Linked DNA regions of Homo sapiens. The protein of the gene in region 4 interacts with the protein of the main gene of each other region in a pairwise test. Each region holds a gene or a part of one and is shown on either strand. Other genes may lie near its edges.

Region 1 (3,121 bases), on a different chromosome or scaffold from region 4:
TCATCCCATCTCTTTCTTCAGAAATTCCCTGGATTAATGTGGACTCACTGTCAATGTTGGTCTCAACATCTGACATAAGAGATAGAAAACACAAATAATGCCACCTGAGAACTATACTAGAAATAATAGAGCATTGAAAATGATAAGGCTTTAAAAGAGATCATTTCAACTTTCACATCAGCATGCTGGGAAGAAAAGGCTGTTAAAGTGAAAGTGCCAAATATCACACAGGCAGAGAACATTGAGGTGGAACAGGGTATCAGTGGACACAACACACGAGACTGCTTCCTAAGCTTTTCTACTCTAATATTTGAATGATGTCTGGTCATCCCTGGCATGAGCTAGTATCTTTTGAATTGATGCTACTTACAGCCTACAAAATGCCAAAGAAGGCACAGGTCTTAAGAACAAGTAGTGACATCGGGGCTGGCAAGACTTAGAATCAGAAAGTGAAACAGAACAGTATCAGAAAGCAAAGGCAAAGGATGAATTGTTGTTCTTTTTAAAAACTCATACCCTGCAGATGTCCCAAAAGACTTAAGACACTGAACATTACAGACACTGGGTTGTGGCAAGACAGAGAGAAAGAAAATCACAGAAGTGCTTAGAGAGTATTATTCCCAATATGTTGTAAGATTACCTAGTTCAGAGGTTCTTAACTGCAGAACCACACATGGACTATAGACGATGAGGAAACGCCCTAAAACTGCTGAACCTCAAACATGCAGAGAAACTACTGTCCTAGACTCTCTATTTGAAAAGGGATGAACAGTTTACTTAGACACACCCAGACTGAGAGTATTCTTTCTCCTATCAGCAAAAAGGAGACAAACAGCCCATAAAATGGCATTTGTGTTCCAAAAGATTGGATGACATTTTAAATGAGTTAAAGTCAATCCATTTTATATGAAATGATGGGCTTGGTTTTAACATTAATGTGGGTTACCTGGGACTCATGTGATGGTTAATCAAGTTCATCCTATGAGTGTGAGTTAAAGGAGTAAGGGAACTCCGAAGGAGAATGTTCAGAGGAGAGTAATCTGAGATTGAAGTAAACAAGGTAACCAAGAGTCTGAAAAAGAATAATCACCAGACAGAGGAAGCGTGTGAGAACAAACCAACAGGTTCTCAATTGTCTTGATGATTCTTTTTCAGATTCTTAGAATAAGAGGCTGAAGTGCTGTGCTAGCTTCATTATTTTCCACGTATTTGCTCTCTGCAAACCACCTGCACTGAAACTCCTGCCTCTGCCTTCAATTTCACTGTTTGCTCTTGGTGGCCCCCATCTATTTGACTGTCTACTTTCTCTTCCTTCTCTCACTGAAATTAAATATCCCTTAATGGTTAAGATTCAGCCTTCATTTTTTCTTCCTGGGGATCGTTTCAACCCAGCTGTGTTAGAGTACTGTTTCAGACCTGCCTTTTATCTCAGACTCTCCACCCACCTTCTCAATGGCCTGCTCTAGCCATCCACTTGCCTATTCTAAAGGCACCTCACGCCCTGTGCTCAGCTCTGAATTCCTATGAATTCAAAAAGCTCCTCCCATGCCATGACTTCCTAGTGTTATCTGACTCAGCTCTCCCCATTTATGGCCAACTTTTGGGAAGATCTGGCCCATTTTACCTTCACATTCTCCGTCCCACTCCCAACAGCACTTAATACTTTTCTTTTTCGCTTTTTACATCTGTCTCCATAACTTGTACCTGCCAGAACTTCTTAAACAACGTTCAGCACATGGCAAGTTGCTCAAAAACTGCTCCTGAATAAATCCATCCCAACCAAGGAGGACAACTAAGGTAGGCAATGTTGAAACTCAGAAAGGAACAATGGATTCAAGGATTGCAGATGAGACGTACTGAGTGATTACATGTTGGTAAGAGTTAAGATTGGTGAGAAACGTTTCATATTTTACCTATTAGGTGAAATCATCTATTTTATTTAAATCCTGCCCAGCATGATTCATTTTAAAATACAGTGCTCCATAAAACGCTACAATTGTTGGTTCTAAATCTGCCTCACCTACCTTTACAGACGTTTTTGGTCCTCTCTGCTGGGGGATCATCCTGTGCTTCCAGGCCCCAAGCCATGTCCCCTCTCTCCAAAAGTGAGATCAGTGCAGGTTTGGGAACTGGGTACCCTGAAAACAGGAAGAAAATGGTACTTTTCAGCCCTGTATCTGCTGTGTCAAAAGAAGGAAAACCCCAGGAGTCTCAGTAAGAATAAGACCCACAGAAGAGGGTTCTCGACTGGAGAAGGCCAAAGAGATTCCGATCAACAGGAAACTGAGCATTTGTGACTTCTTCCTAAAAAAAACACTCAAGGATAAGTAAGTCAGTGAGATCCACAAGGCATGAGCAAACACAGGGAAGGGGACATGCCCTTCCCCAGACAACAACTACTACTTATTCCTTACTGTGCAGAGCCTCTTGGAAGATGGAACATACTCTTACCAGGGGACAGTAATTCCCTTCATTGGGAGACCAAAGTGACCCAAGACCTCTCCCTACCCAGCAATCTTTGAAGTTGGTCACTGAGCCTCAGCTCTGCAGTCACTCAGTGGAGGACACAAGAGACAACCTCTCCTCTCCACTCCACACTCCTCCCCCCAGGCTGTAAAAGAAGGAAGGAAACTGGAAAAGTACAGATCTGAGTCCTAGGAGGAAAATGGCCTTACCCAAAGCAGTCAGGTTCCCAAAATTCTCCAACATCACACTTCTGTACAGGGCCCTCTGGGCAGGAGAAAGGCCAGTCCATTCTGTCTTGGTGAAGTGCACAGCCACATCCTCGAAGGTCACCATCTCCTAAAACAACAGGTTCCTGCTGCCCCAGAGCCAATCCTCTGGCTCCGGGCCAGAGTGTGGGGCAGAGGGGACAGGTAGGGACTTGAGGGAAAGTCCTGTGAGGGATAGGTAATGAGAAAATGTGACAGAACTGGATATTAGACCATTATATGACTATTTTTACAACGAAAAATCTGGAACTTCTCTCACTACCAGAAGAGATTCCATTAGGATATAAAATTGACTGTCATAAAATGTGATTTAACATTTTTTAAACCCTAGGAAAAAAAGTCTCTTATTAGTTAACCTTCCTAGGGCAAAAATCTCTTTGATTTAGTAA
Region 2 (3,971 bases), on a different chromosome or scaffold from region 4:
TATATATTCTATATTTTTTTCTTATTATATACCCTTGATAAAGTTCATAAGTTAGGCATAGTAAGAAATTAACAACAATGACTAATAAAATAGAACAATTATAACAATACACTGTAATAAAAGCTATATTAATGTGGTCTTTCTCTCTCTCTCAAAATATTTTATTGTACTATATTCACCAAAACTGAAGATGAGGGGTGACTACTGTATTACTTTTCTTGACATTCTCTACTTCCCACAGTGAATTTGTTTTCTCTTATAGTCAGGAAGAATACCCTAAATTAAGTGTAACCTCTCCTAGGAGACCTCGACACTTTGCTTTGGCCACATACTACTCCTTACTCAAAGACTTAGCCTCTCCCTCTCCCATCCACGACTCCCACAGTTTTAAGTATTTGGAGTTCTTTTTCCTTTCCTTCAATGTCAGCCAGGACGCTCAGTGTGCCTGGAGTCTCTGCTCAAGGAAGTCACCCTGGACAGAGATGCAGGAGGCCTGAGAAAGAGCAATGGCCTTGGGCACAGGAAGAAGAGAACGTTACTCTAAAACAAGACCCCAATCCTGAAACCTTTTGGTGACCGCTGGTGACCTCTGGTGGCCTCTGGCCAAGCTGCGTTTAAGCCCCTTCGCCGCACTGTAAAGTTCTCCTGGGTCTCTTGTGGCCTTTCTAAGCCCCTTGTCGCCCCTGCTGCTCTCGAGTTCTGAAATCCGTCTCTGACGGATTCCTCTGGGCTCTCTAGGCCTCATCTTAGCTGCCACTTTCCTCAGGTGTCATCCCAGATACCTGGTACTAGTCTAAGTCCTCTTCCCAGAGTGCCCTGGGTAACTCTTTGCTAGTTCTGTACTGTTTCCTCAGAGAGGCTGGGCTGTCCTGGAGCCACAGCACACAGGACTTGCCCTATAGCAGGTTCACAATAAGCAGGCATTAAGCAAATGGAATGACCAGTAAAGGCTGAGCATGGTTACCCAAGAATGTAGGGAATCATGAGGGGAAGGAGGAGCAAGGGTGGCAGGGATGACAATAGATGCTGCAACAGCTTCCAAGTTCTCTTTTGCACCCCTGGAACACCTGTTCTGGAGAAATCCCTCATGACGGTCTCTGAAATACATGTATGTGAAACTTCCTCAGCCTCCTCAGCCAACCTCAACTCCTATCAGGTTGAGGTTCCCCATCCACAGCTGCTTTACCAACCAAGGAGGGTGGTTCTTTTCATTTCTCACACATGGATTATACCAAGCCTGATAATGGTACCTACCTCAGAGGGTTGCTATGAGATTATGTGAGGTGATTTATTATAAGTGTCCAGCACAGGCCTGGTGCACAGTAAACATGCAGTAGATGTATGGATACCATAGCCCCCTGCTACACGTAAGCAAACACTGGGGGACATATCCATAAGCCCAGCTGAATGACCACTAGTCACTCAGTTTCAGCTGCAGACATGGCAAAGCACAAATCCTCTCTCATATGCTTGGTAAACTGTTTGTGGATCACCCAAGTTTTAGTCTCCCTGATAAAAATCTCAGTCAATCAGATATTAACACATATTATCTCAGGTACAGTCTGTCAGCCACAGCCTTCAAAATACCCAGACACAGGAAATATCTCAATGTCACCTATAATCAGTCAAATAAACACAGGCCTGGCCAGGCATGGTGGCTCATGCCTATAATCCCAGCACTTTGGGAGGCCTAGGCAGGTGGATCACCTGAGGTCAGGAGTTCCGGGCCAGCCTAACCAACATGGTGAAAGCCCGTCTCTACCAAAAATACAAAAATTAGCCAAGTGTGGTGGCCGGTGCCTGTAATCCCAGCTACTCGGGAGGCTGACGCAGGATAATCGCTTGAACCCGGGAGATGGAGGTTGCAGTGAGCCGAGATTGCGCCACTGCACTCCAGCCTGGGCAACAGAGCAAGACTCCGTCTCAAAAATAAACACAGGCCCTCGCAGCATTTCCATCACACAGTATTATTCTGATCACAGTCATTCATAATCTTAGTCACCATCTCAAGGACACACAAAGAAAATCAGTCACACTTGAAATCCCACCGTCACACGCTCACCCTCTCACAGTATCTCACAACCCACGTAGGAAGTCTCAAACGGCAACCATCTCTGTCAGTCACACACTCCATGGTTAGTGTTACACTCAACCTATCAGAATCACACACTCCAACCCGTCAGATACACACACCCAAGAGGTGTCAGACACAGAACCGCCTATCAGACACATAAACGGGTCCGCCCCACACCCTCCCAGGCCACTGGTCCTACATTTTATCTGTTATCTGTCCGCCCGCTCCACACTTCGTCCGCCCCACACCCGGTCAATCAGTCCATCCGACACACACTCCGTCAGTCCGACACATTCTCCGTCGGTCCGTCCGGCACTCAGTGTGTCATTCCGCACCACATTCGGTCCGTGAGTCTGTCCACACCGGGTCCGTCAGTCCGTGCACACACGGTCCGTCCACGCCTGGTCCGTCAGTCCGTCACATCCTCTGCGCGTGTGTCCGGCACTCGCAGTCCGTCTACTCACGTCCCCTAGTCAGCCTCTCACTCTCTACCCGCTGGGCGGTACCCCGCATCTCGCTCTGGCCGCCCCAGAGGTTCGCGGCTTCTGGACCTGCTGTGCCCCTCTCCAGCCTGGATCAGGACGGAGAACACCCCCGAAACCCACCTCACCAGCACAGCCGGCGGACCCTTCCGGAGGTGGCCGCAGAGACTAGCCAACTTGCGCGCCCGCCGACCCGGACCACAGCTCCCAGCACACCTCAAGGGCCCACGCCCGCCAGGACTACAATTCCCGGCGTCCTCCGGAAGCTCAAGTGTACCCAGGCGCGGTGCCTGCTGGGAATTGTAGTTGACGTTGGTCAGCACGGAGGCCACAGGATCCCAGCCCGGCCTTTGTGGGACTGAGGTGGCGCTGAGTGGGAGAGCAGCAGGCGATGCGCGAAAGGCGGGACTTGGAGGTGAGGGAAATGTGAAGGCTGAGGGTGAGAGTGCCTGTGTGAGGCTGAGGGTGCCTGTGTGAGGGTGAGGGTGAGGGCGGCTGTGTGAGGGCTGAGGGCTGAGGGTGCCTGTGTGAGAGCTGAGGGTGCCTGTGTGAGGCTGAGGGTGCCTGTGTGAGGCTGAGGGTGAGGGCGGCTGTGTGAGGGCTGAGGGTGCCTGTGTGAGAGCTGAGGGTGCCTGTGTGAGGCTGAGGGTGAGGGCGGCTGTGTGAGGCTGAGGGTGGCTTTGGGAGGGCTGAGGGTGTTTGTGTGAGGGGTGAGGGGTAAGGGTGAGGCAAGAAAATCGGGTCTGGAGGCAGGGAACCTAAGGACTTCCTAGAAGTAAATCAAATGGAAACTGCAGCTATGGTAGGAAATATCCTCTCCATTTATGCAGGGCGTACATGGAGTAAATCACTTTGTAACTTTACTTCGTCCTCTTCATTTACATAGGGCATATACCAAGTAACCAATGGAAACCTCTAGAGGGTATTTAAACCCCAGAAAATTCTGTAACCGGGCTCTTGAGCCCCTATGCTCCGGCCTGCTCCCATACAGTGGAGTGTACTTTCATTTTCAATACATCTCTGCTTTTGTTGCTTCATTCTTTTCTTTGTGCATTTTGTCCAATTATTTGTTCAAGATGCCAAGAACCTGGACACCCTCCACCAGTAACAAGGGTACCTGGGTGAGAGGTGAGGGTGCCCATGTTAGGAGTGAGGGGAGAGGGTGCCTGTCTGAGGGCTTGTGGGTGTGAGTGTCTGTGTAAGTACTGAAGGTGCCTTTGTGAGAGGTGAGCGGTGTGGTTGCCTATGTCAGGGTGTGTATTGAGTGTAGCTATGTGTGGCTCTCTGTGAACACATGTAATCATTTTTATAAATGTGTATCATTTTTTACTGAATTTGAGCTGGGCGTCTGTCTGCATGAGTCACTCTGTGACCAGGTTTGTGGGTTGTTCTGTGTGCTTACTCTGCGTGTGTGT
Region 3 (2,792 bases), on a different chromosome or scaffold from region 4:
GAAAAAGCAGGGGAATGCATGCTGTTCCCATTGTATAGAAACAGACACTGAAGCCCAGAAGAACACGGAACTGGGTATAGGTCCTCCGGGTTCTCTGTTGTGACAGAAAGAGATAAGGTGATGAACCTCCCTGAGAGGAAGGCGGGCACTCTCCACCCATATGTTATTACCCCATTTCCCCAAACTCATCTCTGGGTCTCACATCTTCCCCAACAGTCTGGGCCTTATCCCAACTCTTCACCGAGGAAAAAGGCCATTTTCAGTTGTGCAGCATTTTAGAGTTAGAGGTTCACACACGGTTCCTTATTTTTCAGCAGCGCCGTGAGATAAGCAAAATGTGTACTCTTACTCCAGTTTTTACAGATGCAGAGCCTGGGACACTGGGCTCAGGCTGGCGAAGGCAGCTTCAGGGCACAGCATTTCAGTGTTGCATCCGGGATTGTGACTCAGGCTCTTTATCATCCCGGACTTCAGGATCAGAGAGAGGTTTACAATGCAGATGATGTCTACCTCCCTGGATTCTTTTTTATTGAAGTGAAATTCACATGATACACAATTAATCATTTTAAATGGAACAATTTGCGGCGTTTAGTACATTCACGGTGTTGCGCAAGCATCACTTCTATTTTCAAAGATTTTCCCTTTACCCCCTCCCTGGGCTTTTGTGCAGCATAAAAGAGACCATCTGTGGAAGGCCTCCAGCACGGGGCCTCGCCCCTAGCAGGGGCTCAGTGAATGCAGCCCATATTTTCAGACTCTCTCTAGTTTTCCCTCAGAAACCTGGGCATATAGAAATAGGAATTTTTTCCTAAATTTAGCACCTTGAGAAAATCAGGTTGAGAATATAGGAGGTATTTGTGTCCCAATCATTTTTTATTCCTTTTCCCAAAATGACATGTGAAGGTTGCTCTCCCCCAAGAAACTTTCCCCGAAGAACCCTTTCTATTCTTTAAAACAATCAGACACATTTACCTACTGATGCCCTAGTAGTTACACATCATCACGTGGCTTCTTGGTTATTGAAGGAGTTTGACCTCTCTGCCAGGCTGCGACATGCACAGCCTAGGAGGCACCTCAGTGCTTCGCATTGTCCTGGATACAAAACAGTTGCTTAATAGGTATGTGTTGGATTGGACTGAATGGCAACCAGCCAGCTCCAAAATTCCAGCCACCACCTGGTGACCAGCATTTTTTCTGCCTTTGAAATAGTGGGTTTGGTGACTTGAGGATATGCTCGTGGTGGCAGGCAGTTTGGGCTCTGGTTGGTCGTGGCTTGGGCAGCCCTGCTGGAGGCAGGCCACAAAAAGTGGCAGCTCCCACACCTGGGCTGCACAAGAGATGGAAGGTGAGTGCTTCACGCAGGCAAACCCAGGAATAAAATAGCTTTGGACTTTATTTAAATGTATCCATTCCAGGAGCATAGGCCTGGAAGAAGCCCAGGCCCCAAGAAGTTGTGACTGTCCCCTGGGCTTCCTATGGCACCAGGCATTGAAGCATGTCCTGGTGGCCGGGAGTGGCTGGGGCAGAGGGCGGTGAAGAGAGTGGCTATAGGGAGTTTAGGGTGAGGACCCACCCCCGGGCCTAGAGGGCCACAGTGCGCAGGCTCATTGGAGGATCTTCCCTCCGGCCACCTCTCCTGCACCTCCAGACCACTGTCCCGATGATGCCCACCACAAGGCCGACTCCCGCTGCCACTGGGACAGCCCAGTAGAGCACCTCGGGGGCTTCTTCAGCCTGGTCTGGGAGCAATCGGCTGTTCCGCAGGGTGTAGAGGTAAGGGCTCTCCTGTGGAGGAGGAGCGGGGGTCAGTGGAAAGGATCTCCGTGAACCATCCATCACCAAGCCAAGACTTGCCTAGTCCCCATTCCTGAGATGCTGCGATAACCCTGCACGTTTTCACAGAGCTTCCCTTTTGTAAAGCTCCCTCATTTAGGCTGTGCCCAAACCCTCTTTAGCGGGATGGGCCTCTAAAGAGGTCAACACCCAGCTAGAACCTTCTTTTGGTTTCTCACCAGCGTTTCCTTGGCCATCAAACCTGATTTTGAAAGATTGGGAACTGATAGGTGACCAATGGCAGAGAGCCCTGTGGGGCCTGTAGAACTCCCACCTCTGCTTCCTCGTGGTCACAACTGTCCCCATTCTCCCATCCCAGGACTACCCAGAAATCAGGGAAGGGCAGCATGGAAGGACAGCTGGTTTTGTAGTAGATGAAAGATCCCCAAATCAGAAGGGCCGGGAGGGGAGGCATGTGGGCAGATCGTGTGCGTTCTTGCCTTCCTATGCCCCTCTCCACTCTCCTCTCAGTGAATGTGAATTGGGCACGTGCTGTGTTTAGCCCCCTTGCTGGAAGCTGTGATGAGACTGGAGGGTTAAGATGTGACATCTTTTCTTGTGGCCCAGGAGGAAGTTGAGATGTGCAGAAACAATCACATCATAAAGGAGACTGGGTCGGTGTCTCATGAGAGGTACAAATAGAAAAGGAGACCCACATGGGTCAGTGTCTGGAGACAGGAATGGTAGGTAAGAGACGGTGAAACCATCGCTTAGTAAAGGCAACATCTGGACCTGGAGGGAGGCGGATGTTCTCATAGCAGATGGAAGATGAACCTCCAGGAACAGATGGCAAAAGGAAAGGCCTGGATGCGGGCAGTCGTGGGGCTTCCTGGGAGATGGATCCACCGGCCAGGAGTGCAGTGTGTATCATGGAGGGAGGTGACCCTCCCTCCAGACTCTGGTCAATGGGCAGTAGGGATCAGGCAAGGATTTCAAGCAGCCTTGATGGGGCAAGTTAT
Region 4 (3,500 bases):
TGTAGCAATGGCAGTTTTGTAGGGGAAAATGCCCATTTACTTTTAAAATGCTAATTTACTTTTCAAATGCTACTGTAATAACATCTGTTTCAAATTTCCCTTCCCAAAGCATTCTTACTATGCTTGTATCTTATTTGTTCCATGACTTCTTTAGAAGAATATAAAGACAATAATGGGTCACTTTTTAATATACCACATGCTGTCATAGAATAGTAAGTGAAACAATTTTCTAAGTGAAACAATCTTCTAAACAACGAATATTTTATAACTTCTACAAGCATTTCAAACATACTGATTAAAAAAGAAAAAATTAAAAACTCAGCTTTAACACTAAGAACTGAGGAAGAATACCAAATAGGAAGAAATAAAGATGTGGAAACACAGTAACACAAAATATTACTAGGTAAGTACAGATCCAATAAGATGGCAGAAGTTGGAAATTTTAGATAGAAATGTACCAAATCTAGAGAGACAATTCTACTTTTTATCAGTGTTACAAATATCATGTATTCCCTACCAAGCTTTTTCTGAATGGCCTCCAGTATGCTGTCAGAGTTTCGAAGCATGCAGGGTGTAGTAGTGCAGACCTGAATGTGATACTTTCCAACTGGCTTTCGATTATACATTGTATAAAAAGTTGCTACTTCATATACTCTCATTGGAGGTACTTGTAAAACTTCTGCAACCTAAAATATTAGGACATTTAAAAATAAGATAATTACAGTGTTAGTAATGGAGCTTTAATTATGTTGTACAAAGTATAATTTCAATATTGTCTCAATTTGGTAAAAACAGAAAAGTTCTTCAAGAGCAGAAAACATACTTGTCTTGGATAACTGGGAGATATAAACTCTTCAATTTTTGCAGACAATGTACTTACACTTAAACCATACAGAGCCCGAAAGTTAATGGAGTTAACAGCACTTCCTCCTTCTACCCTACTTCTCACCTCTGTAAAAGGATATTCTTTTTCTCTAAATCTTTAAGTATTTCACTATTAAGAATTTCTACTTTGATCATGTCAACTCACATTTTATAATCTGTCTAAATGGCAAAAAATTGATGGCCAAACCCCAATAAAAGAAGCAATTAGATTTTTTAAACTCTCACCAATTTTTTCCAAACAGCCTACATACAAATGGTACAGCAACAGAAAAAAAGGTTGAAAATCAAAGCTCACTATTGGCCCATATTTTAAATATGTAAACTCAAAATTTTATATCTCTACATATATGTATACACATATTATCATACACAATCACACACTCCTCTCCCAGAATCCAGCACACTACTTCTATTTCATATCACAATACTCTTTTGAAAGTTGAATCATATAGTCTAGTACTTTCTAACCCTTCACGTCAAGACATTAATAGAAAACAATTGTTTTGACATTCTGGTGTTCAGGACTAAGGGGATCACTAACTCAGCATCTTTTCTTAGGGCAAGTCTGTTAGGGAAAACGAGGATTTCTAGCTGTTTGCCAGGGCTGGTCCTTGTCTATCGTGATTTATAATTCTGTCTACAACTTTCTAGGTGACCTATTATCATTAAGACTTACTATCTGGCATTCTTAAAAATTATAGATATATCCATATTCTAATATAAAAGAAGAGCGGGCATTTCAGACAAGTATGTTAACTTTCTCATATTAGGAATTCTAAAGGAAATATATTCTCAAAAGACATCTAATCATGGCTCACTTGTGACAGATAAAGTAATTGTGCTATTTCATTCGGCAGTTCTGAATCAAGGACGTATCCCTGAATCTGGGGAGCTCTCTATCAAAATATACATGCTGGAACCCTACCAAAGGAATAATAAATCTGGAATGAGGCTCTGACTGTCTAATTAGGAAAAGACTCCTTCCTGGAATTCTGCACATCTCCCTACACCTTAGTGACGGTTAAATAAATAATTATTAAGCTTCTGGATATTTTTTGTTGTAAGGTTAGGTGTTTCATGGGTTGGGGGGAGGGGCAGTAACATTAAAATAAAAGTCCCAAATGTAAAGTGCAAAGAATCTTGAGTCTATTCCCTATACCCTACACTTCCTGCCTTTCCCCCACACAAATCCAACCCTAAATATAATAGGACAATATATAAATACATATTTTTTAAGAGATAGGGTCTCACCATCTTGCCCAGGCTGGTCTTAAGCTCAAGCAATCCTCCCACATCAACATCCTGAGTACCTGGGTCTACAGGCATGCACCACCATGCCTGTCTTATTTTTTAAATGTTTTCACTTTCAGTTTCTTATTTATTTTTATTTTGCTCTGCTAACGTGCCACTCAGCAAGATTTCCAACAGGCTTACCATTACTAAAAATATGATTTTTTCAAAATAATAACATTATAATTAGAAACATATACCTAAATCATTATAAAGTTGGCTATTTTAATTTAAAAAAATGTTAAGTAACTTCCCAAGAAATACATAATTTATCGAAGAAATAACCACCTATGTTTACTCAGGATAGTAACTCACTAAACTTGCTTTATAATATTTTTCATAGGGAAAAACCAGTGTTATAGTACTATACAATGCAAATAAAATAAAATATCAATAAACTAAATCTAAAATTTGCATTTAGGATTCTATTAGATAAATTGAGGACATTCCTATTCTCTCAGAAAGATGATTGTCTAGCCTAAGAGTTATAACCAAATTAAGTTTAGAAAGTGGTAAGAATGAAGTACAACAAAATCTCTGTTATAGTCAGTCAAGTAGAAAATGCACTGATTTAGAAATGAATTCAGTCCTAGCACTACCGCTCAGAAATCATAACTTAATAATTAGAAGAGGTCTACCTGGTTCAAAACTTTCATTGCCAATGAGGAAGTTCAGAGAAAAATCAGGTGTCTTAGTTCTAAGTCAAAAATATTTTCCATTATATAACACAGCTTAATGGTTATGTGATTCTCATCAGAATCAAATAGTATGTGGTTTGTGTATGGCACTTTATAAATGATATGCTGTAATACATCACCACACAAATGTAGTTATTTGTATTAACAGGATACGAATAAACTTGAAATTTGTATTACTGCTCAAAACTATTAGGAAAAATGAATATTATATGAATAGAGTAACTTTGAATAAAATGGGTCATCCATAGCATTTCTATAGGTCGTTGATTCCAAAGTAGCATAATCAAATTGTATAAATATCACCTATTATACAGATTTTTCTTACAGCCTACAGCCAAAGATGTAAAATATTAAAAATTTTCATACTAGTGAGCAGATCTTCTTTTCTGTAATTCTAGTGTTTAAATATTACATTAATTTTCAGAATATCTTGACACTAAGTTATACACATTTGGAATCTTTTATCTTTGACCATTTCCTTCAAAAGGAAAAAAAAAAACACATACCCTCTTTCACCATAATGCCTTCCTTATTTCCTGCAAGGTTAGAAATCACCTCTATGCATTAAGGGAATGAACAAAAACACAAAGACAATTCAAGGAAACATACAAATGGCTAAAGGGCTCC
Region 5 (4,002 bases), on a different chromosome or scaffold from region 4:
AGTTCTGGGATTACAGGTGTGAGCCACCATGCCTGACCTCAAGCACTCTTCTGCTGAATAAAGGGGACGTGGCTGTCCTACGCCATAATGGGCATCAGGACGTCATACACAGAAGTGTTGGGAAATCACCTTACAAGGTACAGTCCTCTGCTCAGGGGGGCCAGGAGGGTCTTATAGGCATCATTCACCAGGGTCGAATGCTTCTCTGAGAAGTCCTTTTCAGTCTGTTAGTGGAGATGAAGATAGTACTATTACCATCCAAATCACAAAGTTTTTTTGTTTTTGTTTTTGTTTTGACGTTGAGTCATCCAGGCTGGAGTGTGCAGTGGCGCGAACTCAGCTCACTGCAACCTCCACCTCCCACGTTCAAGTGATCCTCCTGCCTTAGCCTCCCAAGAAGCTGGGACTACAAGCATGTGTCACTGCACTGGGCTAATTTTTATATTTTTAGTAGAGACAGGGTTTCACCCTGTTGGCCAGGCTGGTCTTGAACTCCTGACTTCAAGTGATCTGCCTGCCTCGGCCTCCCAAAGTGTTGGGATTACAGGCGTGAGTCACTGTGCCAGGCCCACAAAGTTTTATAATATTCTAATGGGCAGGCACCTAAGGAAGTGGTTAAGTAGAGCTGGTGTGGGATGAGGTGTCTTTATATTCAGCTGATAGGTTTTAAGTTATCTGGGAAGTCAGACAAAAGCTGTGAGTGAATGGCAGCTCTGGGTCTGACAGGCTGGGGTCAGACTGCCATGGGGCAGACACAGCTGATTTTCCAGCTCAGTCCCTGATAATCACATAACCACAAGGCTACTGCCACCCAGTGTGCACACATATTTGGGGATTATTGGGGTTGGCCAATAAGCTACCTGAGACCTCTGGCTGAAGAAATCTGGGTGGACAAGACGCTGCAGTTGCTGGTACCTGTGCTGGAGCTTCGCTGTATCAACTCTGAAGGAACGGTTGCTGGAAGGAAATTGGGAGATTAAATTTATACAACAAATATTTAAAGGTTTATCTACCATGAGCCTGGTTCTTGCTCTTATGGGGAAGATGCAATAACATATAAGCAGTTAATTTCAAAAAGTGGTAAGTCCTATGAAGGGACACAGAACAGAGTCAGAGAGTGTAGCAGATGTAGTGGACAAAGAGATGACACTCAGCTGAAACCTGAATGATGATGAGTAATCAAAGATCAGAGGAAAGAGACGTCCAGGTAGAATTGCAAGAGCAAGGACCTCGAGGTGGGAGCAAGATGGGGATGCCTGAGGAACTTAAAGATCAGCGTTACTGTAGCCCCTCATACATGTTCAGTGACTGGTGGGGAAGATCCCATAGTTAAGGAAAAGGGACATTCCTAAATTACACAGACAAAGATTCTTTGCCTGGCCAAACTTTAGTCAGATTTCTGAACCTTCTCCTAGGCCCAGATGTATGCTTTCTTGTAAAATACAGTTTTGGCAAATAATCTTGCCAAGTCAGTTTAGCTAGAATCCTCGATCCTCATATTTTTGATCATCCTAGATCTCTGATCAGATTCTTCATCCTCTACTATCCCCCAGGTGGTGTCTAAGCAGCCTGGCCTGTCTTCAGCAAGAATCCCGTTAGGTCGGCTTAGCCAGAATCCCGTTTACTCTGCTCCTTGGCTACAAATTTCCTTCTGCCCATGCCCTTTTTGGAGTTGAGACCAATCTCTCTCCCCAACTGCAAGACCCTATTGCAGTGGCCCCTCTACAAGATGGTCTTGAAGAAAGTCTTTCTGGTGCTTGAACAAGTGTGACTGAATCATGTTTTCTTTAATACCACCCTAACTTTTCCACGGCCCAGGTCCCTTCATCCCTGTCTCTCCCGGTTTATTTTAATTCAGCCCCTTTCACATTCTACTCCCAGAGTCTGTCCTATTTCCTTACCAGTTCAGCTCTATCCACACTGCCCCGTCTCTCCAAGAACCTCAGTCTCAGGGGGAAAAACCATTTATTGGACCCTCTCCCTCCAATTCTCACTTTTCCCTCAGGCCTCGCCCACAATATTAAGCTTTTCATGCTTTACTCCCTAATCTCGGATCACACTTCTGCAGTCCTTTCTTAAATACATCAACCCAACTTTAAACCTTACTCACCCTATTCATTCAAGTCTTCCAGTCTCCCAGGCCCTGCCCCTCAAGTACCCTTTCCTCAAGTTCCGCCCCTCGACTTCTCCTTCCCTTTCCCGTAGGTACCGCCCCTCAAATCTCCCTCCCCTCTAGCCTCGGCCCCCCTATTTCCTCTAACTTCAGCGCCCGCCCCTCCAGTCCCGTTCGTCTCCCTTCTCCACACCTCAACGTTGCTTCCCTCAGTCCCCGCCTCTCAATTTCCTCCTGAGAAATCAAGACACTTCTCTCACGCCTGCTCTCTAGACCTCCGCCCCCCCATCAGTCCCGCCTTCTCTTCCGCCAGCCAGATCCGTCCTCCCCTCTCGCAGGCCAGACCTCGACGTGTCTCTCGCCCGGGCCCGTTTCCCGAAACCGTCGCTCGTACCAGTCCATAAGGCTGAAGTAGTCTCGAGTGGGGTCAGGTGCCTGCAGCGCTCGGCACTGTGGGCAGAAGAACCTGTCCTCCCGCCCGGGGCCCCATGGGCCGCCGCAGTTCCAACAGCGGGGATAATTGCTTCCCGCCTGCGACGCAGCATCGCAGCTTAGCGGTCTCCTTCTGGGAACCCCTGTCGGCCAAAACCCCCACACCCGGAGCAAAGCCCCGGCTCTCCCCCGCCACATCTGGCCGGCGGCCTATCTAGCCGTGGTCACTCGTGGGGAAAAGCAAAGAGAGCGTCTAACCAGACTAATGTTGCTGATTGGCTGGGGAGTCGAGGGGGCGGGATCACCCGAGGGGAACCCGGGTTCTAAGTTCCGCTCTCCCTTCTAAACTACAACTCCCAGGAGGCATTGAGGCGGCGCCTGACGGCCACATCTGCTGCTCCTCATTGGTCCGGCGGCAGGGGAGGGGGTTTTGATTGGCTGAGGGTGGAGTTTGTATCTGCAGGTTTAGCGCCACTCTGCTGGCTGAGGCTGCGGAGAGTGTGCGGCTCCAGGTGGGCTCACGCGGTGAGTCATATGGGGAACTTCTGTTGGGTGTTTGGTGGTTCGAATCCCATCTTAAGCGTTTTGTGCGAACGGAGTCTCCTGAGCTTCGCTTTGTCTGTAGTTTTGAGCTGAAGGGGGAGTGTGTGGGCGACTCTCTTCCTTTTCAGTAGATCATCCTCGAGGTGAAGTTCACTTCCCGTATTACTTGCAAGCTGAAACAGGCCTGAACATACAGGATAAGAAGAACAGCGTTGTATTCTTCAATATCAGAGCGAAGTGACTTCGTAAAAATTCTATAGATGTTAGAAATCGTTGCCATTCTTTAGGTTCAATCTATAAAATACTTATAGAGAAGCCAGTCTTAGCTACTGGGCGCTGCAGGGACTGGAAACGCACTGAGCTGTGTAGGAGGATGTTCTGCGTGTCCCTAAATAAGTCCCTAAGTAAATGTATGGGATAGGGTGGCCAGAAGTGGGTAGGAGGGCATCAGTCCTCCTTCGGACTTAGGTTTTCTGCTTGAAAAAAATATTGTGTTTCACTTGAAAGACCTCTGGAATTTTTAAAAAAAATTATTTATTTTTGATATAAAGTATACATATATGATTACCATCTGTACCTTTTTTTTTTTTTTTTTTTTTTTTGAGACGGAGTCTCTCTCTGTTGCCAGGCTGGAGTGCAGTGGCGCGATCTGGGCTCACTGCAACTTCTGCCTCCTGGGTTCAAGCGATTCTCCTGCCTCAGCCTCCTAAGTATCTGGGATTATAGGTACCCGCCACCATGCCCGGCTAGTATTTTTAGTAGAGACGAGGTTTCACCATGTTGGCCAGGCTGATCCCGAACTCCTGACCTCAGGTGATCCACCTGCCTTGGCCTCCCAAAGTGCTGGGATTACAGGTGTGAGCCACCGCGCCCGGCCTATTTTCAATTTTTTGAGGAATCACAATACTCTTCTC
Region 6 (3,500 bases), on a different chromosome or scaffold from region 4:
AACTGACACTTACCTTCCCAATTCCGTTCTCCCTCCATCTTTGTTTCATTTTTGAGTTGGGGGAGATGGATGAGTCTAATTTTAAGTGGAAAAAGCAAATGTGTTTGTTAATATGCCAATACTTCTTCATTCTAGTGATTATTAACTCTGGCCATGTGACTGTATCATGCTTAAAAAATTTGTAATGGGCCAGGCGTGGTGGCTCACGCCTGTAATCCCAGCACCTTGGGAGGCCAAGGTGGGTGGATCACCTGAGGTCAGGAGTTCAAGACTAGCTTGGCCAACATGGTTAAACCCCGTCTCTACTAAAACACAAAAATTAGCCAGGCGTGGTGGTGTGCGCCTGTAATCCCGGCTACTCGGGAGGCTGAGGCAGGAGAATTGCTTGAGTCCGGGAAGCGGAGGTTGCAGTGAGCTGAGATCGTACTACTGCACTCCAGCCTGGATGACAGAGTGAGACTCTGTCTCCAAAAAACAAAACAAAACAAAACAAACAAACAAACAAAACAATTGTAATGATGGCCAGGTGTGGTGGCTCATGCCTGTAATCTCAACACTTTGGGAGGCCGAGGTGGGCAATCACTTGAGCTCAGGAGTTCCAGACCAGCCTGCCCAACATGGTGAAACTCCCTCTCTCTAAAAATACAAAAATTAACTGGGTGTGGTGGCAGACATTTGTAATCCCAGCTCCTCAGGAGGCTGAGGCAGGAGAATCGCTTGAACCCAGGAGGCAGAGGTTGCACTGAGCTGAGATCGCACCACTGCATTCCAGATTGGGTGACAGAATGAGACTCTATCTTAAACAAGTAAATAAATAAATCATCATGAATACCATAGAATTCACAAAGAATTGCACTGTATTTACTTAAACAAAAATTTACCTGTTTCTAATTAGCACCTTGAAGAAGGTGAAGGGAATACATTCCAGAAATTTAGCAATTCCAGCAATGTTAGGAAGTGCAGTTTAATTTTACCTCATAGCAGTATATGAAAGCCATGACAATTCACTCCATATAGCCAGACAATTTTGGATTAAGACGGACTCTAATGTCACATGTTTAAACCTTTTATTGGAACAATACACTCAAAGCTCATGTTTCCTTAAAAAAAAAAATCACAGGTGCTCTCCCTCAAATACTCATAATGGGAGGAATCAATAAGTTCCCAATCCTCCTTAAGTACTTGCCTCCAAACCAGTCCTTTTATGAAATGACACTGATAAAGATGGTAAATAACAGTAACAAATACAGAAAGACTACACATATATATTGTTTGGACATATGAATAAAACTTAGTAACTGGAAAAACAACTTAAAAATTATAATCTTGACCAAACATATACACAGTATAGTATTTATTATGTATAAGGAGTGTTCTAAGTGCTTTAGACACATGAGCTTACTTCATGCCATCAAGCGGGGAATGACCAATAAATATCCAATGAACTACAGAATTACCAAATTTATTTTACAGTGATTCTTTTTTGTTGATAATGCTATGTTAAGTGAAAAAATAAAGCAGGATGCAAAGTTACAGAACAACTCCCAAATAACAGAAATTTCTGTGAATAAGGTTAACTTCTTCATGAAATGCAGATATATGAGTCTTCAGGAGTCATCACTGAAAAGTGTATTATAAACACATCAAGACCCTGTCTCTCCAAAAAATATAAAATTAACCAGGCATGGTGGTGTGTGCTTGCAGTCCCAGCTACTGGAGAGGCTGAGGGAGGAGAATCACTTGAGCCCAGGCGATAAAGGCTGTGGTAAGCCATGGTCGCGCCCAGGAGTTAGAGGCTGTGGTAAGCTGTGGTCGCGCCACTGCACTCCAGCCTGACAGAGCAAGACCCTGTCTCAAAGAAAGAAAGGTATATGACATACTTTTCACCGCAAACATTAAAAAAAGAAATCATGCTGACTTCTCTACCACTTTACATTCCTGTGGTTTGCCTCAGACTTCTAGGCAGGCTTCATAAAATCAAAGTTTGTTCTGACACCCTTACTTTTTGCAGGGTATCACAAATCTAATTTTCTTTAACTCAAACTTACTCATAAAGCCATTTGAAGAAACTCCTTACACTGTCCAAAATTAAATGAAAAAAAAAAAACCCTGCTTAAAACAAAACTTCCTTTTGCCAAGAAAAAAATATTAAATCTGGAATCAAATAAAAAGGAATCATTAACAATATTTATTGAAGGTCTACCAGGGACTGAGTGATTCCTTGTCTATATCACAATAGGTGTTACTACTATTCTTATCTTTTAGATGAGGAAACTAGGGCTCAGAGAAGTGAAATAAATATTTCCACATATTTTTGAGGGATTACGAACTTGGTTGGTCAGTGGTTTTAGCTTAATCATACAAAAAACCCTACTACAAGAGTGGTTATTTCATGAAATAAAAGTCCAAGAAGCCTACACGCCAACCCTGCAAAGCTAGTATACTCAATGATTGAGAGAACAGGAGGAATCAGGGTTTCAGCATTATACAGATCTAATCAGCCCCACTGCCATGGTCCTTTAACAGGTGTCGGATACATTTTTTAACTTTTAAGATTTTGACTACATAATATAAAATTAAGTATCTATATTTAAAGTAAGTAAATTCATAATAATTTGAAACAGAATTTTAAATAATGGTGGGCCACAGCTTGCTCTATTATGGCTAGTCAGGAGCCCTGGGCAGAGTACAGTGGAAAAGGAGATCAGAAAGGTAAAGGAGCACACAAGAGAAGAGTGAGACCTGAAGGAGTAGCAGAGGCAGAGTGGGGGAAAGGCAGGATGAACGCATAGGCAGAACATGGCAGTTACATGAGAAGATGATAGGACTGGAAGATTTGAGGTATTAAATAATTCTGCACTTAGAATTTGTCATCTGCAGTTTGCTTATTAGAATATACATGCTCATATATGTATGTATGTGTGTGTGTATGATAAAGTTCCCTTTATCCATTAGAGATAATCTGTGTAAATGGTTTTTCTTTTCTTTTGTAAATGGTTTCTCTGTTCCTTCTTCCAATACATTTCTTCAACTATGAAAAAGAAATGCTTACTGAAGGGCAAGGTACAGTGCAAGAAGAGAAGCAATAAATAAATAAATAAATAAATACATAAAAGGATTTAACCCTTGAGACGTTATAATTTAAGTACAGAAATAAATAAAATAAAATACAAGTCTGAAGCATTATTAGTAAGTACATCGTACCAAGGGGTTCAAAAAGAGGATTTGATCTGCTTTGGGGAAATTAGCCGATAAAACCTCAGACGGCTTGTAAGTTTACCCTTATATATTTAGAAGGCACTACTCTGAAAGGAGTATTGACAATAATGGGGAGGGAATAGTCTGTAGTGGCAGCAATCAGAACACCTGTAGTGCTCACCTCTCTGGTAAAGGTTGATAATCAAAGTAAAAGTTAGAAGGAAGTCAAGACTGACAAACTTGAATGCAGTCTCAGAAGTATCCAGACAGGTATTTGCCAGGAAACTTAGTACTGATCATAA
Region 7 (3,500 bases), on a different chromosome or scaffold from region 4:
CTCAGCAGGTGGCTGGGAGTCCCCAGGGTTTTGAAGGAAGAGACATGATCAGGCTGTCATTTTAGACATACCAGCCATCCTGAGATGGACTAGGCAAGGCCTCTGGCCTCTCAGCTTCCACAGCAGTAGAAGTTGAGAAGATGGGTTGATAAATACCTTCCAGAGGTGACATCCAAGGTAATTTAAATAACCCATGTCCCATGAAGCGTTTGATCTTTTCTCCCAAATTCCAGGTTGCTTTTACCAAAAGCACCAGGTGCAGTGGCTCATGCCTGTAGCTCCAGCACTTTGGAAGGTCAAGATGGGCAGACCACCTGAGGTCAAGAGTTCGAAACCAGGCCAGGTGCGGTGGCTCACGCCTGTAATCCCAGCACTTTGGGAGGCCAAGGCGGATGGATCACCTGAGGTCAGGAGATCAAGACCAGCCTGGCCAACATGGTGAAACCCTGTCTCTACTAAAAATACTAAAATTAGCCAGGTGTAGCCGGGCGCGGTGGCTCACGCCTGTAATCCCAGCACTTTGGGAGGCCGACGCGGGCAGATCACGAGGTCAGGAGATCAAGACCAGCCTGGCCAACATGGTGAAAGCCCGTCTCTACTAAAAATACAAAAAATTAGCCGGGCGTGGTGGCAGGCGCCTGCAGTCCCAGCTACTCAGGAGGCTGAGGCAGGAGAATGGCGTGAACCCGGGAGGCAGAGCTTGCAGTGAGCCAACATTGCGCCACTGCACTCCAGAGTGGGAGACAGAGCAAGACTCCGTCTCAAAAAAAAAAAAAAAAAAAAAAATTAGCCAGGTGTGATGGCAGGAACCTGTAATCTCAGCTACTCAGGAGGCAGAGGCAGGAGAATCACTTGAACCCAGGAGGCAGAAGTTGCAGTGAGCCGAGATTACACCATTGCAGTCCAGCCTGGGCAACAAGAGCGAAACTCCATCTCAAAAAAAAAAAAAAAAACCAAAAGGTGAGTTCGAAACCAGCCTGGCCAACATGGTGAAACCTCAACCCTACCAAAAATACAAAAGTTAGCCAGGCGTGGTGGCACACGTCTATAATCCAGCTACTCAGGAGGCTGAAGCATGAGAATCACTTGAACCCAGGAGGCGGAGGTTGCAGTGAGCCGGGATCAACCACTGCACTCCAGCCTGGGCGAGAGAGCAACATCCTATCTCGAAAAAAAAAAAAAAATACCAAAAGCTGTTTTAAACTAAGGCTCCAGGGCTGGGTGAAACAGATGAGAGCATTTGGGTGCCCGTTGTGCTCTGTGCTTTTCCATTTTCCCTGGCAAGGCTGTGAGCAGGAGCAGGCAGCGACTGTGTGTCACTTCCCTGTGTAACCCCAACACCTGCGCAACCACTTCCACAATAACTATTCAACCATTCAGAGCAAGTCATGACAAACTTTTTTTTTTTTTTTTTTTGAGATGGAGTCTCGCTCTGTCGCCTGGGCTGGAGTACAGTGGCGCCATCTGGGCTCAATGCAAGGTCTGCCTCCCGGGTTCACGCCATTCTCCTGCCTCAGCCTCCCGAGTAGCTGGGACTACAGGCGCCCACCACCACGCCCGGCTAAGTTTTTTGATTTTTAGTAGAGACGGGGTTTCACCCTGTTAGCCAGGATGGTCTCGATCTCCTGACCTTGTGATCCGCCCGCCTCGGCCTCCCAAAGTGCTGGGATTACAAGCGTCAGTCACCGCGCCCGGCCGACAAACGTTTGACAGTTCCCTCTAAGGAGGGACCCGGGAAGACAGCACAAAGGTCCTTCTCCTTTCCAGAGGGTGGGGGAGGGCAGAAGCAATGGCCAAGACCTGCCTGGACTCTGGGCCCTTTAACTCTTTTCCCTTCTAAAGTGGGAATCACTTACACGTCTGATGCTGAGGCTGGGACTACCCCTTGATCGCTGGTAGGGGTAGGGAGGATTTTGTAGTACCCAATTTGGGGAACATGGAATCAGCTTGGGCAGAGACTATGAGAGGGGACAGCAAGACAGGGGTCCCCTCTACAACCTATCTGGGTCATAGTTCCTAATCCTGGCCGCTCAGAGTGCAATTTTTAAATTTTTTTATTTTTATAGAGATGGTGGGGTCTCACTATGTTGCCCAGGCTGGTCTCAAACTCCTGGGCTCAAGCAATCCTCCCACCTTGGCCTCCCAAAGTGCTGAGAGTACAGGTGTGAGCTACAACACCCAAACCCAGAATGCAAAATTTTAAGAAGCACATTCCTGAGCCCCACCCAGGTGGAGTGACTTCCCACCTCTGAGGAAGGGCCCAAGAAGATGTGTTCTTTGCAGCTTCCACGGGTGATTTCCAGGTAGCTGAGCCTGTATTTGCAAACCACAGATCTTGACCACCTCCTCTTTTCTGACTGGATACGTTAGAGCCTGGGCTGAGCCCCTGCCCCCTCATCCTGCCCTATCTCAGTAGCAAGTTCTCATTTCCAGGTCTAGCTATCAACTCAAGTGGACAATGCAAGTGTCACTAGACACAGTGAATGTGAGTAACATGCTCAGCCATACACAGAATCTGCAAATCTAAGCCATAAAATTCAACCTTCTGGCCAGGTGTGGTGGTTCACACCTGTAACCCCGACACTTTGGGAGGCCGAGGCGGACGGATCACCTGAGGTCAGGAGTTCGAGACCAGCCTGGCCAACATGGTGAAACCCCGTCTCTACTAAAACTACGAAAAATTAGCTAGGTGTGGTGCCTGGTGCCTATAATCCCAGCTACTTGGGAGGCTGAGGAAGGAGAATGACTTGAACCCGGGAAGGGGAGGTTGCAGTGAGCTGAGATCCCGCCACTTCACTCCAGCCTGGGTGACAGAGCGAAACTCGATCTCAAAAAAAAAAAAAAAAAAAAAAAAAAGGCCAGGCGCAGTGGCTCATGTCTGTAATCCCAGCACTTTGGGAGGCCGAGGTGGGCGGATCACAAGGTCAGGAAATCGAGACCATCCTGGCTAACACAATAAAACTCCATCTCTACTAAAAATACAAAAAAAATTAGACGGGCGTGGTGACAGACACCTGTAGTTCCAGCTACTCGGGAGGCTGAGGCAGGAGAATGGTGTGAACCTGGGAGGCGGAGCTTGCAGTGAGCCAAGATGGCGCCACTGCACTCCAGCCTGGGCGACAGAGCGAAACTCCGTCTCAAAAAAAATAATAATAATAAAAAAAAACAGGCCAGGCCCGGTGGCTCACGCCTGTAATCCCAGCACTTTGGGAGGCCGAGGCGGGCGGATCACGAGGTCAGGAGATCAAGACCATCCTGGCTAACACGGTGAAACCCCGTCTCTACTAAAAACACAAAAAATTAGCCGGGCGAGGTGGCGGGCGCCTGTAGTCCCAGCTACTCGGGAGGCTGAGGCAGGAGAATGGCGTGAACCCCAGGGGGCGGAGCCTGCAGTGAGCCGAGATTGCGCCACTGCACTCCAGCCTGGGCGACAGCGAGACTCCGTCTCAAAAAAAAAAAAAAAAAGAAAAACAACCTTCCTTCCATTGCAATCCCAGCAT

The links.
Region 1: the proteins of NDUFV2 (region 4) and ZNF19 interact in binary tests that used the Homo sapiens proteins (3 or more experiments, as listed by UniProt).
Region 2: the proteins of NDUFV2 (region 4) and ZSCAN22 interact in binary tests that used the Homo sapiens proteins (3 or more experiments, as listed by UniProt).
Region 3: the proteins of NDUFV2 (region 4) and PLB1 interact in binary tests that used the Homo sapiens proteins (3 or more experiments, as listed by UniProt).
Region 5: the proteins of NDUFV2 (region 4) and HSCB interact in binary tests that used the Homo sapiens proteins (3 or more experiments, as listed by UniProt).
Region 6: the proteins of NDUFV2 (region 4) and API5 interact in binary tests that used the Homo sapiens proteins (3 or more experiments, as listed by UniProt).
Region 7: the proteins of NDUFV2 (region 4) and SMARCB1 interact in binary tests that used the Homo sapiens proteins (3 or more experiments, as listed by UniProt).

Annotation. Positions count from the first base shown.
Region 1 is NC_000016.10:71,476,204-71,479,324, forward strand, and holds part of ZNF19 (zinc finger protein 19), read right to left. Parts: intron 2,803-3,121; coding exon 2,676-2,802; intron 2,139-2,675; coding exon 2,025-2,138; intron 70-2,024; coding exon 1-69. UniProt on the Homo sapiens protein: May be involved in transcriptional regulation.
Region 2 is NC_000019.10:58,325,823-58,329,793, reverse strand, and holds the start of ZSCAN22 (zinc finger and SCAN domain-containing protein 22), read right to left. Parts: upstream 2,801-3,971; 5' UTR 2,680-2,800; exon of another isoform or gene 1,255-2,679; intron 1-1,254. UniProt on the Homo sapiens protein: May be involved in transcriptional regulation.
Region 3 is NC_000002.12:28,641,851-28,644,642, reverse strand, and holds the end of PLB1 (phospholipase B1, membrane-associated isoform 1 precursor), read right to left. Parts: intron 1,786-2,792; coding exon 1,582-1,785; 3' UTR 501-1,581; downstream 1-500. UniProt on the Homo sapiens protein: Calcium-independent membrane-associated phospholipase that catalyzes complete diacylation of phospholipids by hydrolyzing both sn-1 and sn-2 fatty acyl chains attached to the glycerol backbone (phospholipase B activity).
Region 4 is NC_000018.10:9,119,699-9,123,198, reverse strand, and holds part of NDUFV2 (NADH dehydrogenase [ubiquinone] flavoprotein 2, mitochondrial precursor), read right to left. Parts: intron 1,935-3,500; exon of another isoform or gene 1,743-1,934; intron 687-1,742; coding exon 518-686; intron 1-517.
Region 5 is NC_000022.11:28,740,837-28,744,838, reverse strand, and holds the start of HSCB (iron-sulfur cluster co-chaperone protein HscB isoform 1 precursor), read right to left. Parts: upstream 2,801-4,002; 5' UTR 2,744-2,800; coding exon 2,508-2,743; coding exon of another isoform or gene 2,459-2,507; intron 2,159-2,458; exon of another isoform or gene 2,111-2,158; intron 958-2,110; coding exon 861-957; intron 225-860; coding exon 135-224; coding exon of another isoform or gene 130-134; intron 1-129.
Region 6 is NC_000011.10:43,314,996-43,318,495, reverse strand, and holds part of API5 (apoptosis inhibitor 5), read right to left. Parts: intron 76-3,500; exon of another isoform or gene 14-75; intron 1-13. UniProt on the Homo sapiens protein: Antiapoptotic factor that may have a role in protein assembly. Negatively regulates ACIN1. By binding to ACIN1, it suppresses ACIN1 cleavage from CASP3 and ACIN1-mediated DNA fragmentation. Also known to efficiently suppress E2F1-induced apoptosis.
Region 7 is NC_000022.11:23,796,966-23,800,465, reverse strand, and holds part of SMARCB1 (SWI/SNF-related matrix-associated actin-dependent regulator of chromatin subfamily B member 1), read right to left. Parts: intron 1-3,500.